2 separate regions of the Homo sapiens genome follow, and region 2 is linked to region 1. Evidence: fine-mapped expression QTL. A gene starts in region 1. The other region holds a variant in brackets. All regions are shown on one strand. Distances are from middle to middle. Region 1 holds the start of EP300 (EP300 lysine acetyltransferase). Region 2 overlaps EP300 (EP300 lysine acetyltransferase).

What was found. PIP is the estimated chance that this variant, and not a neighbour inherited with it, causes the effect.
Region 2: its variant is the best candidate, but not a certain one, in a credible set for the expression of EP300 in CD4 T cells (CEDAR, PIP 0.64).

Annotation. Positions count from the first base shown.
Region 1 is chr22:41,091,574-41,094,073 of GRCh38, forward strand. It overlaps EP300 (EP300 lysine acetyltransferase), which reads left to right and starts at 1,019. Exons shown (of 31, transcript NM_001429.4): 1 at 1,019-1,525. The coding sequence starts at 1,432. MIR1281 (microRNA 1281) reads left to right here and starts at 940; the gene lies at 940-993. RefSeq lists silencers at 1-209, 310-1,079, 1,260-1,359 and an enhancer at 1,470-1,709.
Region 2 is chr22:41,178,386-41,181,327 of GRCh38, forward strand. EP300 (EP300 lysine acetyltransferase) reads left to right here. Exons shown (of 31, transcript NM_001429.4): 31 at 1-1,692. The coding sequence ends at 571. Among named protein-coding and RNA genes, the nearest start is that of EP300-AS1, 18 kb to the right of the region's middle. The variant T/TA (reference allele first, on the strand shown) is at 1,148.

The DNA of each region.
Region 1 (2,500 bases):
CGTTGGGGCCTAGGGCGGATCCCGTGATTGGGACAGGCCCCGCCCCCGGCTCCACTTCCCCCATTGTGTGAGCGGCTCGGGCCTAGGCCCCGCCCCCCTCCGGAGGCCCGGCCACTCCCCTTTTCCACCCCCCCTTGGCTCATTTCCGGCCGCCGCCGCTACCGCTAGCCTGTAAGGAGGATTCGGCAGAGGGAAGAAACAACAGCCGCCATCTTGTTTGTGTGCTAGGCTGGGGGGGAGAGAGGGCGAGAGAGAGCGGGCGAGAGTGGGCAAGCAGGACGCCGGGCTGAGTGCTAACTGCGGGAGCCAGAGAGTGCGGAGGGGAGTCGGGTCGGAGAGAGGCGGCAGGGGCCGAGACAGTGGCAGGGGGCCCGGGGCGCACGGGCTGAGGCGACCCCCAGCCCCCTCCCGTCCGCACACACCCCCACCGCGGTCCAGCAGCCGGGCCGGCGTCGACGCCTAGGGGGGACCATTACATAACCCCGCGCCCCGCGGCGTCTTCTCCCGCCGCCGCGGGCGGCCCCGAACGGAGCCCCGGGGGGCGGGCGCTCCCAGCACCTGGCCGCCGGCGGTGGGGGCCGTAGCAGCGGCCGTATTTATTTATTTTCCGCGGGAAAGGAAGGCGAAGGAGGGGAGCGCGGCGCGAGGAGGGGCCGCCTGCGCCGCCGCCGGAGCGGGGCCTCCTCGGTGGGCTCCGCGTCGGCGCGGGCGTGCGGGCGGCGCTGCTCGGCCCGGCCCCCTCGGCCCTCTGGTCCGGCCAGCTCCGCTCCCGGCGTCCTTGCCGCGCCTCCGCCGGCCGCCGCGCGATGTGAGGCGGCGGCGCCAGCCTGGCTCTCGGCTCGGGCGAGTTCTCTGCGGCCATTAGGGGCCGGTGCGGCGGCGGCGGCGCGGAGCGCGGCGGCAGGAGGAGGGTTCGGAGGGTGGGGGCGCAGGCCCGGGAGGGGGCACCGGGAGGAGGTGAGTGTCTCTTGTCGCCTCCTCCTCTCCCCCCTTTTCGCCCCCGCCTCCTTGTGGCGATGAGAAGGAGGAGGACAGCGCCGAGGAGGAAGAGGTTGATGGCGGCGGCGGAGCTCCGAGAGACCTCGGCTGGGCAGGGGCCGGCCGTGGCGGGCCGGGGACTGCGCCTCTAGAGCCGCGAGTTCTCGGGAATTCGCCGCAGCGGACGCGCTCGGCGAATTTGTGCTCTTGTGCCCTCCTCCGGGCTTGGGCCCAGGCCCGGCCCCTCGCACTTGCCCTTACCTTTTCTATCGAGTCCGCATCCCTCTCCAGCCACTGCGACCCGGCGAAGAGAAAAAGGAACTTCCCCCACCCCCTCGGGTGCCGTCGGAGCCCCCCAGCCCACCCCTGGGTGCGGCGCGGGGACCCCGGGCCGAAGAAGAGATTTCCTGAGGATTCTGGTTTTCCTCGCTTGTATCTCCGAAAGAATTAAAAATGGCCGAGAATGTGGTGGAACCGGGGCCGCCTTCAGCCAAGCGGCCTAAACTCTCATCTCCGGCCCTCTCGGCGTCCGCCAGCGATGGCACAGGTTAGTTTCGGCAGCCCCGGCCTTCCACGTTCCCTTTAATCTTTTCTACTCGGTGCGCCTTTATTCTTCCATTTTTTTTTTCTTCCTCTCTCTCTAGTTCCCTGCCCCTTAATTAATTTTAAAGGTATTTGAATGAGCTGGTCGAAGACGTCCAGTAGCCCAACCATTTTCTTTGCCTCCTAATACATTGATTGCAACACTATGTCATATCGGTGTGTGTTCTGGAATTAGAGCTCGTAAGTGGGTGCTATATAGAAATGGCCTGTATTGTTGCTCTCATGCAATTTAATTTGGGAAATGCCAATGCATTTGTGTGTAAGAGCTCCTATGCAATTTAAGTTTCATTTTTTTTGTTCTTGGCAAATGAATTTCGAATCCTTTCTCTTTACTGTACTTACTGTGTTTCCTCTACTTTCCACTCTTCGAAATTTTCTCTCCTTTGCAGAATATTTTCTGTTGAGGAATAGGGTGTAAAAAAATCTTGATTTTGTGTGTGCGAGGTCCAAGATTTCAGGTTAGAGGTGAAGTTTAACAATTCTTTTATCTTACCTACCATTCTTAGCTTTTTTTTCCTTTTTCTTCTTATTTGCTTTAAGAATCAATATGGAGCGCAGTTCATTTCACATCTCCCAGTTCTTTGGTGTGAGACCAAAATGTCTGAAACTCTGGGTTTTTAGGTTGGGAGAACAGGGGCATGTTCTTTGCAGTTTGCAGTCACTTTCTCATTTTAGGGGAAATAAGATAAACAATTTTGTGGAGTTACGTACCTGGAAATCAAGGTTAGAAGTTGAAAGAGTTCCAATCATGAACTACAAACGTGAACTGATTGTACAAAAGTTTAAAATGTGCATTAGGTTTGGTGTTTGTGTGTGTCTTTGTCTTTTTACACTTTTAAACATACTTGGAGATCAAGATTTTCGTTTAAAAGCTTTACGACCAGTTCATTCAGTTGTGGACTAGCTCCTTTGTCAGGAG
Region 2 (2,942 bases), 87 kb after region 1:
GCGGATGCAGCATCACATGCAACAGATGCAACAAGGAAATATGGGACAGATAGGCCAGCTTCCCCAGGCCTTGGGAGCAGAGGCAGGTGCCAGTCTACAGGCCTATCAGCAGCGACTCCTTCAGCAACAGATGGGGTCCCCTGTTCAGCCCAACCCCATGAGCCCCCAGCAGCATATGCTCCCAAATCAGGCCCAGTCCCCACACCTACAAGGCCAGCAGATCCCTAATTCTCTCTCCAATCAAGTGCGCTCTCCCCAGCCTGTCCCTTCTCCACGGCCACAGTCCCAGCCCCCCCACTCCAGTCCTTCCCCAAGGATGCAGCCTCAGCCTTCTCCACACCACGTTTCCCCACAGACAAGTTCCCCACATCCTGGACTGGTAGCTGCCCAGGCCAACCCCATGGAACAAGGGCATTTTGCCAGCCCGGACCAGAATTCAATGCTTTCTCAGCTTGCTAGCAATCCAGGCATGGCAAACCTCCATGGTGCAAGCGCCACGGACCTGGGACTCAGCACCGATAACTCAGACTTGAATTCAAACCTCTCACAGAGTACACTAGACATACACTAGAGACACCTTGTAGTATTTTGGGAGCAAAAAAATTATTTTCTCTTAACAAGACTTTTTGTACTGAAAACAATTTTTTTGAATCTTTCGTAGCCTAAAAGACAATTTTCCTTGGAACACATAAGAACTGTGCAGTAGCCGTTTGTGGTTTAAAGCAAACATGCAAGATGAACCTGAGGGATGATAGAATACAAAGAATATATTTTTGTTATGGCTGGTTACCACCAGCCTTTCTTCCCCTTTGTGTGTGTGGTTCAAGTGTGCACTGGGAGGAGGCTGAGGCCTGTGAAGCCAAACAATATGCTCCTGCCTTGCACCTCCAATAGGTTTTATTATTTTTTTTAAATTAATGAACATATGTAATATTAATAGTTATTATTTACTGGTGCAGATGGTTGACATTTTTCCCTATTTTCCTCACTTTATGGAAGAGTTAAAACATTTCTAAACCAGAGGACAAAAGGGGTTAATGTTACTTTAAAATTACATTCTATATATATATAAATATATATAAATATATATTAAAATACCAGTTTTTTTTCTCTGGGTGCAAAGATGTTCATTCTTTTAAAAAATGTT[T/TA]AAAAAAAAAAAAAAACTGCCTTTCTTCCCCTCAAGTCAACTTTTGTGCTCCAGAAAATTTTCTATTCTGTAAGTCTGAGCGTAAAACTTCAAGTATTAAAATAATTTGTACATGTAGAGAGAAAAATGACTTTTTCAAAAATATACAGGGGCAGCTGCCAAATTGATGTATTATATATTGTGGTTTCTGTTTCTTGAAAGAATTTTTTTCGTTATTTTTACATCTAACAAAGTAAAAAAATTAAAAAGAGGGTAAGAAACGATTCCGGTGGGATGATTTTAACATGCAAAATGTCCCTGGGGGTTTCTTCTTTGCTTGCTTTCTTCCTCCTTACCCTACCCCCCACTCACACACACACACACACACACACACACACACACACACACACACTTTCTATAAAACTTGAAAATAGCAAAAACCCTCAACTGTTGTAAATCATGCAATTAAAGTTGATTACTTATAAATATGAACTTTGGATCACTGTATAGACTGTTAAATTTGATTTCTTATTACCTATTGTTAAATAAACTGTGTGAGACAGACACCCTGACTTTGTTTCACTTGATAACACATCTTTGTCTTGGAGTACACCCGTTTTAAGTGCCTAATGCTTAGGATTCAGAGGAAAAAGTGAAAGCATTAGCTTATAGCCTCTTTAATCTACTACGTATAATGTATTCACAAGTAGATCTTGGTGAATTTATCCAAAGTTCTGGGAAAAAGTACTGCAGGTACCAGCTAACAGTCAAGGTGGAAGTGATAACCTACTTAACACCTTGATACAGGACCCCTTAAGGATGACCTCATGGTCTTCCAATCACCTTCATCTTACAGGGATGAGAAGGAGGACCTAAGAAGACGGATCATATCTGCCTAAGTCCCAAGTAACTTCTTGGAAAAAACAAGACTTGCCAGGCATGGTGGCTCACGCCTATAATCCCAACATTTTGGGAGGCCAAGGCAGGCAGATCACGAGGTCAGGAGTTCAAGACCAGCCTGGCCAATATGGTGAAACCCCCATCTCTACTAAAAATCAGCAGGGCGTGGTGGTGGGCACCTGCCGTCCCAGCTACTTGGGAGGCTGAGGCAGGAGAATCAGATCCTGGTGGAGGTTGCAGTTAGCCAGGATCTCACCACTGCACTCCAAAGACTCCGTCTTTTAAAAACAGAGAAGATGAAGCTAGGGGAACACTCCTGTTTGCTAACTGAATACAAAGAAGTCAGTTGGAATCGGGTTGAAGGGAAGGAAAATGTGTGGAAATAAAACCTAGAAGGCTGAGAGAGATTACACATGAGTCCAGTAATATGCTAGATGCTCAAAGAATGGAGAGATTATTGATCCTCCATCTGAACATTGCAGTAGCTGTGAACAAGTTGTTAAAACAAATGTGTTAGTACACTAAAAAGTACTGAGCTGCTTTGGTATCAATTCCAGATCTTTCTTTTATCACAGAGATTTACACTAACCATATATGACTGCTAAAGGATTTCAGATACGTTGACCTGTTGCTACTATTTTAGTCTGAAAACAACCAGCATCTTTTTTTTTTAAGACAGTCTCGTCACCCAGGCTGGAATGCAGTGGCACAATTGTAGTTCACTGTAGCCTCAAACTCATGGGCTGAAGCAGTCCTCTTACCTCAGCCTCCCTAGTAGCTGGGACTCAAAGGTGTGTACCATCATGCCTGGCTGACTTTTTAAAATTTTTATAGAGACAGGGTCTTGCTATGTTACCCAGTCTGGTCTCGAACTCCTGGACTCAAGTGATCCTCCACCTTGGCCTCCCAAATTGCT